Linked DNA regions of Homo sapiens. The protein of the gene in region 1 purifies or fractionates together with the protein of each later gene. This does not show direct contact. Each region holds a gene or a part of one and is shown on either strand. Other genes may lie near its edges. The genes, in order: CENATAC and GINS1.

Region 1 (7,298 bases):
CATAGATTTTGTCAATGTGCATGGATTCATTTATCTTGAAATGCTGGGCAACTGCAGCTGTAGATCCTAATCTACAGTACATATCAAACAATTCAGCTTTTTCTTGTAATGTCATGACTTTTCTCTGCTTCTTTGGAGTGCTTCAGGCATCACTAGTGGCACCTCCTATAGGTCCCACGTTACTATTTGAGGTTAATGGTATGACATTACTGAAAAATATGCAGGAACCATGAGTGATCACTTTTACTGTAATATGCAATTTACTGGTGAGACAACTGCTTACAAGATGATCAGCATTACTGTGTTTTAAGCAGATACAACACTTGAGTTCACTGCAATAGGTGGCTACAAAATTGTGACAGTTGTAGTTTGGATTATAATTTTATACAGTTATGTAATATTGCATCTTTACATTTATTTTCATTTCTCTTGACCGCGAATGTCACCATGTACAGTCTGTGTTTCTGTGTGTAAGTTTTGATAAATTTTAACTTTTTTTTTTTGGAGAGGGAGTTTTGCTTTGTCACCCAGGGTGGAGTACAGTGGTGCGATCTCGGCTCACTGCAACCTCTGCCTCCCGGGTTCAAGCGATTCTCCCGTTTCAGCCTGGATTTGTGTATTTTATGGTAGTAAATCATAAAAGACTAGTATCTACATATATTTTATGCATTCATGACATACCTTTTTAATTTTTTCCATATTTCTAGGCTATGTGGTTCATCTGCAAGTTTTTTCAAATTGTTGCAAATCTCCAAAAAAATTTTCAAGTGAACTCGTGCAGTTCAAACTTGTGCTGTGCAAGAGTCAACTGTATTTGCTTATTTTCTCAAAAAGGAATGCCTAAAGGATAATCAAGAAACTAATGAAACTGCCAGATGTGGTGGTGCACACCTGTAGTCCTAGCTACTCAGGAGGCTGAGGTAAGAGGATAGCTTGAGCCCAGGAGTTTGAGGCCATCCTGGGCAGTGTATCAAGACCCCATCTCTAAAAAGAAATACGAATTTTTTTTTAGAGAAGTTAATGAAATTGATCACATGGCCATGCTCAGTGGCTGACACCTGTAATCCCAGCACTTTGGGAGGCCGAGGTGGGAGGATCATTTGAGGTCAGGAGTTCGAGACCAGCTTGGTCAACATGGTGAAACCCCATCCCTACTAAAAATACAAAAAATAGCTGGGCGTGTTGGTTTGTGCCTGTAATCCCAGCTACTCGGGAGGGTGAGGCAGGAAAATCGCTTGAGCCCAGGAGGCAGAGATTGTACTGAGCCAAGATCATGCCATTGCACTGCAGCCTGGGCAACAAGAGCAAAACTCTGTCTCAAAAAAAAAAAAAAAAAAAAAAAAGAAACTGATCACATATCAGTTAGTGTAACCAGTTGGTGTGACCCAGTTTGTGGGTCAGTAAAAATGTTTAGAGTTGATAGGAATAGAAAAAAGATTTTTTTTTTTTTTTTTGGACAGTCTCACTCTGTTGCCCAGGCTGGAGTGCAGTGGCACAATCTCAGCTCACTGCAACCTCCACCTCCCAGGTTCAAGCAGTTCTCCCATCTCAGCTTCCAGAGTAGGTGGAATTACAGGCTTGTGCCACTACGCCTGACTAATTTTTGTATTTTAGTAAAGATGGGGTTTCACCATGTTGGCCAGGCTGGTCTTGAACTCCTGACCTCAAGTGATCCACCTGACTCGGCTTCCCAAAGTGCTAGGATTACAGGCATGAGCCACCACACCCGGCCTAGAAACAAGATTTCTATGTATACTTTTAAAAATAAGCTGTTGGTTTTTTTTTTTTTTTCTGATGGTACATTTGGGAATTATACTGTAACAGGCATAAGAAGTAAGATTTCTCCCATGCGAAATTTTGTATTCAGAATCCAATAGAAATATTTCAGGTTTTTTTTCAAGATGGAGTCTCGCTCTGTTGTCCAGGCTGGAGGGCAGCTGCGTGATCTCGGCTCACTGCAACCTCCGCCTCACAGGTTCAAGCAATTCTCCTGCCTCAGCCTCCTGAGTAGCTGGTATTACAGGCATGCGCCACCATGCCTTGATAATTTTTTTTTTAATGGTGAAAAGATATACATATATTTAGAATTAGCCAACTGGACTCAGTTGAGATGATCCCTATTTTGTTGGCAACATCCAAAGCATTGTAATCAGGAGCCAGTCGAACATGTTCCTTCTCTCCATCAGGCCGAATCAGGGTGTTGACCTTGGCCACATCAGTGTCATAGAGCTTCTCTGGTGCTGTGGCTTAACATTCACAGTGAACACAAGTGCGTGTGTCTTCTGTCTTCTTCATGGAGACTCAGTGGTCAGAGGAAACTTGATGATGCATAGTGGTCAAGCTTGTTTCTCCTGGGGGTGCTCTTAAGATATTTGCACTGCCTCCGGAGTCGCAATGTCTTGGGCCGCCAGAAGGCTAGTGATACGCGGATCTTCTTTTTTTTGTGGCTGTGGACACCTTTCAACACTGCCTTCTTGGCCTTCAGAGCCTTGCTTTGGCTTTAGGAGGGGCAGGAGCTTCCTTCTTAGCTTTTGGTGCCATCTTGTGAAAAGGGGCTGATTTTTGTATTTTTCGTAGAGATAGGGTGTCACCATGTTGGCCAAACTGGTCTCGAACTCCTGACCTCAAATGATCTACCCACCTTGGCTTCCCAAAGTGCTGGGATTACAGGCGTGAGCCACTGCACCCGGCCAATAATTAGAAATATTTCTCTCTCTTTTTTTTTTTTTTTTTTGGGAGACAGAGTCTTGTTCTGTTGCCCAGGCTGGAGTGGCATGATCTTGGCTCACTGCAACCTCCACCTCCTGAGTTCAAGCGATTCTCCTGCCTCAGCCTTCCGAGTAGCTGGAACTACAGGTGCATGCCACCACACCTGGCTAATTTTTGTAATTGTAGTAGAGATGGGGTTTTACCATATTGGTCAGGCTGGTCTCGAACTCCCGACCTCAGGTGATCCGCCTGCCTTGGCCTCCCAAAGTGCTGGGATTATAGGCGTGAGCCACCGAGCCCGGCCCAAATTAGAAATATTTCTAATCAGATATTTCCATGGTTATAGATATTTGGTTGCTTGGTTCATATGCATAGAAACAGTTGTCATAACTGTAAAAAGCAGTACTTAGCAAGTATTTCTAAGTGATTGGAATAGCTTTCCTTTAATGTTACAATACTGCCTATTGATTTGGAAATTAGATCACGCTCTATGATGTTTCGATTTTACTCAAAGGCATCATGAGTACTCTGCTCATTCTTTCATTCTTTATAGTTTTCTAGTTGAGTTAGGAACTATTTTATCAGAAATCATTTTAGCATTATAATAAGGGTAGATGACATACCATAATGATTTTCAGATTTTTTTTTTTTGAGACAGAGTCTTGCTCTGTTGCCCAGGCTGGAGTGCAGTGGCACGATCTCAGCTTACTGCAACCTCCGCCTCCTGGGTTCAAGTGATTCTTCTGCCTCAGCCTCCCGAGTAGCTGGGACTATAGGCATGCGCCACCATGCCCAGCTAATTTTTGTATTTTTAGTAGAGATGGGGTTTCACCATATTGGCCATGCTGGTCTCGAACTCCTGACCTCATGATCCACCCACCTTGTCCTCCCAAAGTGCTGCAATTACAGGTGTGAGCCACTGGTCCCAGCCTGATTTTCAGATTTTTAATAAAAAGGGTATCTGGATTAGCTGGGCATATAGTCCTACCTACTCTGGAGGCTAGCCTATAGTCCTACTTACTCTGGAGGCTAAGGCAGGGGGATCACCTGAGCCTGAGGGATCACTTGAGCCCAGGAGGTTGAACCTGCAGTGAGCTGTGATCCCACCACTACACTCCAGCTGGGCAGCATAGCAAGAATGTCTCTTTAAAAAAAAAAAGGCAATTCAGTTGCAGTGGCTCATGACTGTAATTCCAGCACTTTTGGAGGCTGAGACAGAGGATCATTTGAGCCCAGGAGTTTAAGACCAGCCTGAACAACATAGTGAAACCCCATCTCTAAAAAAAAAAAATTATATTAGCCAAGCATGGTGACATTTGCCTGTAGTGCTAGCTACTGGGGAGGCTGAGGCAGGAGGATTGCTTAAGCTCACAAGGTTGAGGCAGGAGTGAGCTGTGATCACACCACTGCACTCTAGCCTGGGCAACAGAGCAAAATACCCTGTCTCAAAAACAGCAAGAAAAAAAAAGCCAATACCTGGAAACTTTGAACAGGGTGAAAAGAAGAAAACACGGAGGAGTCTGCTAAAGCACAAAACTTCTCTCTGGTCCTCAAATAAATAAAAATTTTTGGCCGGGCACGATGGCTCATGCCTGTAATCCCAGCACTTTGGGAGGCCAAGGCCAGCAGATCACGAGGTCAGGAGATCGAGACCATCCTGGCTAACACGGTGAAACCCCGTCTCTACTAAATATACAAAAAATTACCCAGACGAGGTGGTGGGTGTGTGTAGTCCCAGCTACTTGGGAGGCTGAGGCAGGAGAATGGCGTGAACCCAGGAGGTGGAGCTTGCAGTGAGCCGAGATCATGCCACTGCACTCCAGCCTGGCGACATAGAGTGAGACCCCGTCTCAAAAAAAAAAAAAATTTTTTTTTTTTACAATTCCACATTGTCATTTTCTTTTCCTCTGGTCTCAAACTCCTGGTCTCAGGCAATCCTCCCACCTCAGCCTCCCAAAGTGCTGGGACTACAGACAAGCCACTGTGCCCAGCCAGCTGCCTAGAAATTTCTGGACTTCAACCACACTGTAATTTTTTTTTTTTAATCAGTTTCTTCTATTTCCTTGAACTCAGTTTCCAGGAACTTCTGGTTTGGAAATTAGAGACCTGCCTTCCAGGTTAGTCTACAGAAAGTCTAGTTGTGTTCCACTGTGTCTTCATTGTCCTGCACACTCATGTGATACACTCAGGTGTTGTGGATTATGAGACCCAGAGAGAAACTTCCTGGTGATAATCGCACAAAGTATAGGAAAGAAACCTGGCAGTCTGTACAGTCCATTATTATTATGTGCTTAGTCCATTTGGTTAAATAATTTGAGATGCTTTTTTTTTTTTTTTTTTGAGATGGGGTCTTGCTCTGTCACCCAGACTGGAGTGCAGCGGTACAATCATGGCTCACTGCAGCCTCAAACTCCTGAGGGCTCAAGCAATCCTCCTGCCTTGGCCTTCAGAGTAGGCAGGATTTTTTTTTTTTTTTTTTTTTTTTTTTTTTGAGATGGAATCTTGCTCTGTCGCCAGGCTGGAGTACAGTGGCGTGATCTCAGTTGACTGCAACCTCTGCCTCCCAGGTTCAAGCGATTCTCTTGAGTAGCTGGGACTACAGGCACAGGCCACCACACCCAACCTTTTTTTTTTTTTTTGAGATGGAGTCTTGTTCTGTCACCCAAGCTGGAGTGCAGTGGTACGATCTCGGCTCACTGCAAGCTCCGCCTCCTGGGTTCACGCCATTCTCCTGCCTCAGCCTCCCTGAGTAGCTGGGACTACAGGCGCCCGCCACCATGCCTGGCTAATTTTTTGTATTTTTAGTAGAGACGGGGTTTCACCTTGTTAGCCAGGATGGTCTTGATCTCCTGACCTCGTGATCCGCCTGCCTCGGCCTCCCAAAGTCTGGGATTACAGGCGTAAGCCACCATGCCCGGCCTAATTTTTGTATTTTTAGTAGAGATGGGGTTTCACCGTGTTGGCCAGGATGGTCTCGATCTCTTGACCTCGTGATCCACCCGCCTCGGCCTCCCAAAGTACTGGGATTACAGGCGTGAGCCACTGCGCCTGGCTTAGTCCACCTATTTCTAATGTGACTGGGTCATTCATCAACCTCTGTGATATGGTTTAGCTGTGTCCCCACCCAAATTTTTTTGACTGTAGCTCCCATAATTCCCACGTTGTGGGAGGGACCCAGTGGGAGATAACTGAATCATGGGGGCGTTTTCCCCCATGCTGTTCTCATGGTAATAAGTCTCACATGATCTGATGATTTTATAAGGGGTTTCCCCTTTCACTTGGTTTTCATTCTCTCTGGCCTGCCACCATGAGACATGCCTTTCACCTTCTGCTGTGATTATAAGGCCTCCCCGGCCACATGGAACTGTGTGAGTCTATTAAACCTCTTTTTCTTTGTAAATTACCCAGTCTTGGGTATGTCTTTATCAACAGTGTGAAAATGGACTAAGACACCCTGTCAACATCATCTCTCTGCTCCAGTGCTGCATCTTCAGGAGCCCAGGTTCCAGATAAATGAACTGTAGTGGCAGCCAGTGGCCAGGAGATACCGGCAACCTAAATATAGTTTTCTTTTCGTTTCTTTTTTTTGGAGAGAGTCTCGCTCTGTCACCCAGGCTGGAGTGCAATGACATGATCTTGGCTCACTGCAACCTCCGCCTCCCAGGTTCAAGTGATTCTCCTGCCTCAGCCTGCTAAGTAGGTGGGATTACAGGCACGTGCCACCACGCCCGGCTCATTTTTGTACTTTCAATAGAGATGGGGTTTCAGCATGTTGGTCAGGCTGGTCTCAAACTCCTGACCTCATGATCCGCCCACCTCGGCCTCCCAAAGTGCTGGGATTACAGATGTGAACCACCTAATCTGGCCTTTTTATTTATTTATTTATTTATTTTGAGATGGAGTCTTGCTCTGTTGTCCAAGCTGGAGTGCCATGATACAATGACAGCTCACTACAGCCTCAACCTCCCAGGCTCAAGCAATCCTCCCACCCCAGCCTTCCAAGTATCTAGGGCTATAAGTGTGCACCATCACACCTGGCTATTTCTGTATTTTTTGTAGAGACAGGGTCACTATGTTGCCTGAGCTGGTCTCAAACTCCTGGGCTCAAGCAGTCCTTCCACTTTGGCATCCCAAAGTGTTGAGATTACAGGCATGAGCCACTGTGCCCAGCCTAATTTTTACTTTTGAACCTTGTAAATTGTCAAACATACACACACAAGGCAATTCCAAGGTTTGGTTGATTTGACTGGTAAAGATAGGAGGAGGCACTTTTAGATTTAGATGGTTTCTTACATAGACAGTGAAAAGAAAAGGAAGACCAAAGAGCCAGCTTCTCAGGTCCTTGTTTCATACACCAAAAAGGACAACACTGAAACAAAAAGGACTGGATGACCCCAGTGTGAGTTGTGGGATATTCTGTTGCTGGGGAATCAAATCTAGACTGTAGTAGCTAAGTGGCTTTTTTGTTGTTTTTAAATTTTACTTATTGAAGGGGTGGCCTGCCCCTCCACACCTGTGGGTATTTCTAGTCGGGTGGGATGAGAGACGGAGAAAAGAAATAAGACACAGAGACAAAGTATAAAGAAACA
Region 2 (3,689 bases), on another chromosome or scaffold:
CAGCCTCCTGAGTAGCTGGGACTACAGGTGCCCGCCACCATGCCTGGCTAATTTTTTTGCATTTTTAGTAGAGACGGGGTTTCACCGTGTTAGCCAGGATGGTCTTGATCTCCTGACCTCGTGATCCACCCGCCTCGGCCTCCCAAAGTGCTGGGATTATAGGCGTGATCCACTGCCCCTGGGCCAACTTTGTATTTTTTAGTAGAGACGCGGTTTCTCCATGTTGGTTAGGCTGGTCTTGAACCCCCGACCTCAGGTGATCCGCCTACCTTGGTGTCCTAAAGTGCTGGGATTTCAGGCATGAGCCACCGTACCCAGCCCCTTAAGTTTAACTTTCAACTACTTACTTGTTGGAGTTTGAAAACTAATCAGTGCTACTTTTTAATGATACAAGAAATAATTTCAAATTCTTTCCCAATCATTTATTTTACTCTTTCTCCATCCCTTCTTGTCCCCTCAGCACTTTTTACCTCGATGGAAATGTGAGCAGCTGATCAGACAAGGAGTCCTGGAGCACATCCTGTCATGACCATGCGCCGAGGCACTTCCAGGCTTCACTCAACTCATGGACTCCTCTGTACTCACTCTCTCCACCACTCCCTTCACCTCCCTCTTTGATTTTAGAAGCTATAGACATTGTTTAAGATAACTAAGAATACTTGGCTAAGAAGTATAATTTGCTAACTATTAAGGACTTTCTTTTTTTAATGTTGTACACTATTCTTCCTACTCTTTTTTGGTTTTGGTTTTGTTTTGTAGAGACTGTCTCACTATGTTGCCCAAGCTGGTCTCAAACTCCTGGCCTCAAGCAGTCCTCCCACCTTAGCTTCTCAAAGTGTTGAGATCACAGGCGTGAGCCACTGCACCCGGCCCCTACTCCTTTTTCTAATAAGCTGTATCTGTAATCACAGCATTCCTACAGTTGTTACAGTGTGTTTTTTAAATGAAAGTAAACATGGTTACATTTGAATCTCTTAAATAAGCAGTCACTTGGCTGGACAGGAAGAAGGTAGATCCTGTGTGTCTTGTTTTCTGGTCATGTGTATTGTACAAGCTAGAGAGCTGAATTTCTGAGATACACATTTTCAAATCACATGCAAGTGAAGATGATGGTCTGTAGAAATTTTCAGTATATATAATGTTTAATGACATACTAATTTATCATCTGGCTATTTGGGAAGGAAGGACACACATGGATTTTGCACATTTCCACCATGGTGGCTGGTGTGGCTTGTGGCTATGGGGTGATCACCAGTATCACCACTTTGGAAGGGGACAGTGAAATTGGGGCTAGAGAAGGAACTTTGTACAGTTTTCCCTGAGATTCAGATTGACTGAAAAGTCACATGAAGAGTTGATTGTCTTTTAATGGTATGTTTTAAACAGCTGACATTTTAAATTTTGATGAAATCCAGTTTATTCGTTTGTTCTTTTATGCTTTGGGTGTTGCATCCGAGAAATCTTTTCCCATCCCAAGATCACAATTTTTTTTCCTTTTTACTTCTAGAAGTGTTATAATTTTAAGCTTTATACTTTGGTCTATGACCCGTTTTTTTTTTTGTTTTGTTTTGTTTTTTCGTTTGTTTCTTTGTTTTGAGATGGAGTCTTGTTCTGTCACCCAGGCTGGGGTGCAGTGGCGTGATCTTGGCTCACTGCAATCTCTATCCCCTGGGTTCAAGTGATTCTCTTGTCTCAGCCTCCCAAGTAGCTGGGATTACAGGCACAGGCCGCCACGCCTGGCTAATTTTTGTATTTTTAGTAGAGACAGAGTTTTACCATGTTGGCCAGGCTGGTTTCAAACTCCTGACCTCAAGTGACCCACCTTGGCCTCCCAAAGTTTTGGGATTACAAGTGTGGGCCACCGCGGCCAGCCTATGATCCATTTTGAATGAATTTTTTATATGGTGCAAGGTGTCAATCCACCTTCACTTTTTCTTGGGAATATAGATATCCAGCTGTTTCACTACCATTTTTTGAAAGGACTGCCCTTTGCTCTATCACCTTTGCATTTTTGTTAAAAAGTAGTTGTCAATGTATATGTGGGTTTATTTCAGGACTCTGTTTTGTTCCATTGACCTGTTTTTCTCTCCTGAATGCCAATACCATATTTGTATGTAGTGTATGTAATTTTCTAATAATTCTTGAAACAGATAGTATTAATGTGTCATATTTTTGCTGTTGTTTGTATTTTTTGTAGAGATGGGGTTTCACCGTGTTGGCCAGGCTGTGTTGAACTCCTGAGCTAAAGCAATACACTTGCCTCGTCCTCCCCATGTGCTGGGATTACAGGCGTGAGCCTTGGTGCTGGCCCAGTGTACCACATTTCTTTTTGAGATTTGTTTTGGCTATGTTAAGTCCTTTGCTTTTGATGTGAAATTTGGGAACAGGCAGGGTGTGGTGGCTTATGCCTGTAATCCTAGAACTTTGGGAGGCCTAGATGGGTGGATCACTTGAGCTCAGGAGTTCCAGACCAGCCCGGGCCTATGGCAAAACTCCGTCTCTACAAAAAATAGAAAAAATTAGCCAGGTGTGGTGGTGCATGCCTGTAGTCACAGTTACACGGCAGGCTGAGGTGGGAGGATCACTTGAACCCCAGAGGTCAAGACTGCAGTGAGCTGAGATCACACCACTGTACTCCAGCCTGGGTGACAAAGTGAGACTCTATCTCAAAAAGAAATTAGGATCAATTTGTCAATTTCTACAACAACAACAACAAAAACCCCTGTTGGGCACCTTGATTGAGATTGCATTGAATTTATATAAAACTGTTGGGAGAATTGACATCTTAATAATATTGAGTCTTCTGGCCTATAAACAAGGTCTGTCTTCCTAGGTATTAATGTTTTGTCTTCTATTTCTCTTAATAATCTTTTGTAGTTTTCAGTGTACAGGTCTACCATGTCAGCATTTCATAGTTTTGATGCTAAATGGTATTTTAAAATTTCAAATTCTAACCACTTGTTGCTAGTAAATAGAAATACAATTGATGTTGAACTTGTATCCTTCAGCCTTGCTAAACTGTGAGTTCTCATGGTGTTTTTGTAAATTACATCAACAGTCATGTGTTCTATGAATAAAGAGTTTTACTCCTTCCTTTCTAATCTGAATGCCTTTTATTTCTTTTTCTTGCCTGATGGCATTGGTTAGAACTTCCAGTAGAGTACTAAATATATGTGGTCAAAGACACCCCTATCTTGTTCCTGATCTAAGAAGGAAAACAGTCTTTCACTATTATGATGTTTGTTAGCTCTTAAGTTGTTTGTAGATGCCCTTTATTGGGGTAGGAAGTTCCTTCCTATTCCTAGTGATATGGTTTGGCTGTGTCCCTACCCAAATCTCAACTTGAACTGTAATAATTCCCATGTGTCAAGGGCAGGGCCAGGTGAAATAATTGAATCAAGGGGGTAGTTTTCCCCATACTTTTCTGGTGTTAGTCAATAAGTCTCACGAGATCTGATGGTTTTATAAATGGGAGTTCCCCTGGACATGCTCTTTTGCCTGCCACCATGTAAGACGTGACTTTGGTCCCTATCCATTTGCCTTATGCTGTGATTGTGAGGCCTCCCCAGCCATGTGGAACTGTCAATTAAATCTCTTTCCTTTATAAATTACCCACTCTCCAGTATGTCTTTATTAGCAGCATAAGACGACTAATACACCTAGTTTACTGAGAATTTTTTTAAAAGTCA

Evidence for each region.
Region 2: the proteins of CENATAC (region 1) and GINS1 purify together in Homo sapiens (affinity purification with mass spectrometry; 2 studies listed by BioGRID and IntAct, with this or other methods). This does not show direct contact.

The regions. Positions count from the first base shown.
Region 1 is NC_000011.10:119,000,906-119,008,203, forward strand, and holds part of CENATAC (centrosomal AT-AC splicing factor), read left to right. Parts: intron 1-707; exon of another isoform or gene 708-920; intron 921-2,047; exon of another isoform or gene 2,048-2,688; intron 2,689-7,298. UniProt on the Homo sapiens protein: Component of the minor spliceosome that promotes splicing of a specific, rare minor intron subtype. Negative regulator of centrosome duplication.
Region 2 is NC_000020.11:25,445,463-25,449,151, forward strand, and holds the end of GINS1 (DNA replication complex GINS protein PSF1), read left to right. Parts: intron 1-460; coding exon 461-529; 3' UTR 530-3,101; downstream 3,102-3,689. UniProt on the Homo sapiens protein: Required for correct functioning of the GINS complex, a complex that plays an essential role in the initiation of DNA replication, and progression of DNA replication forks.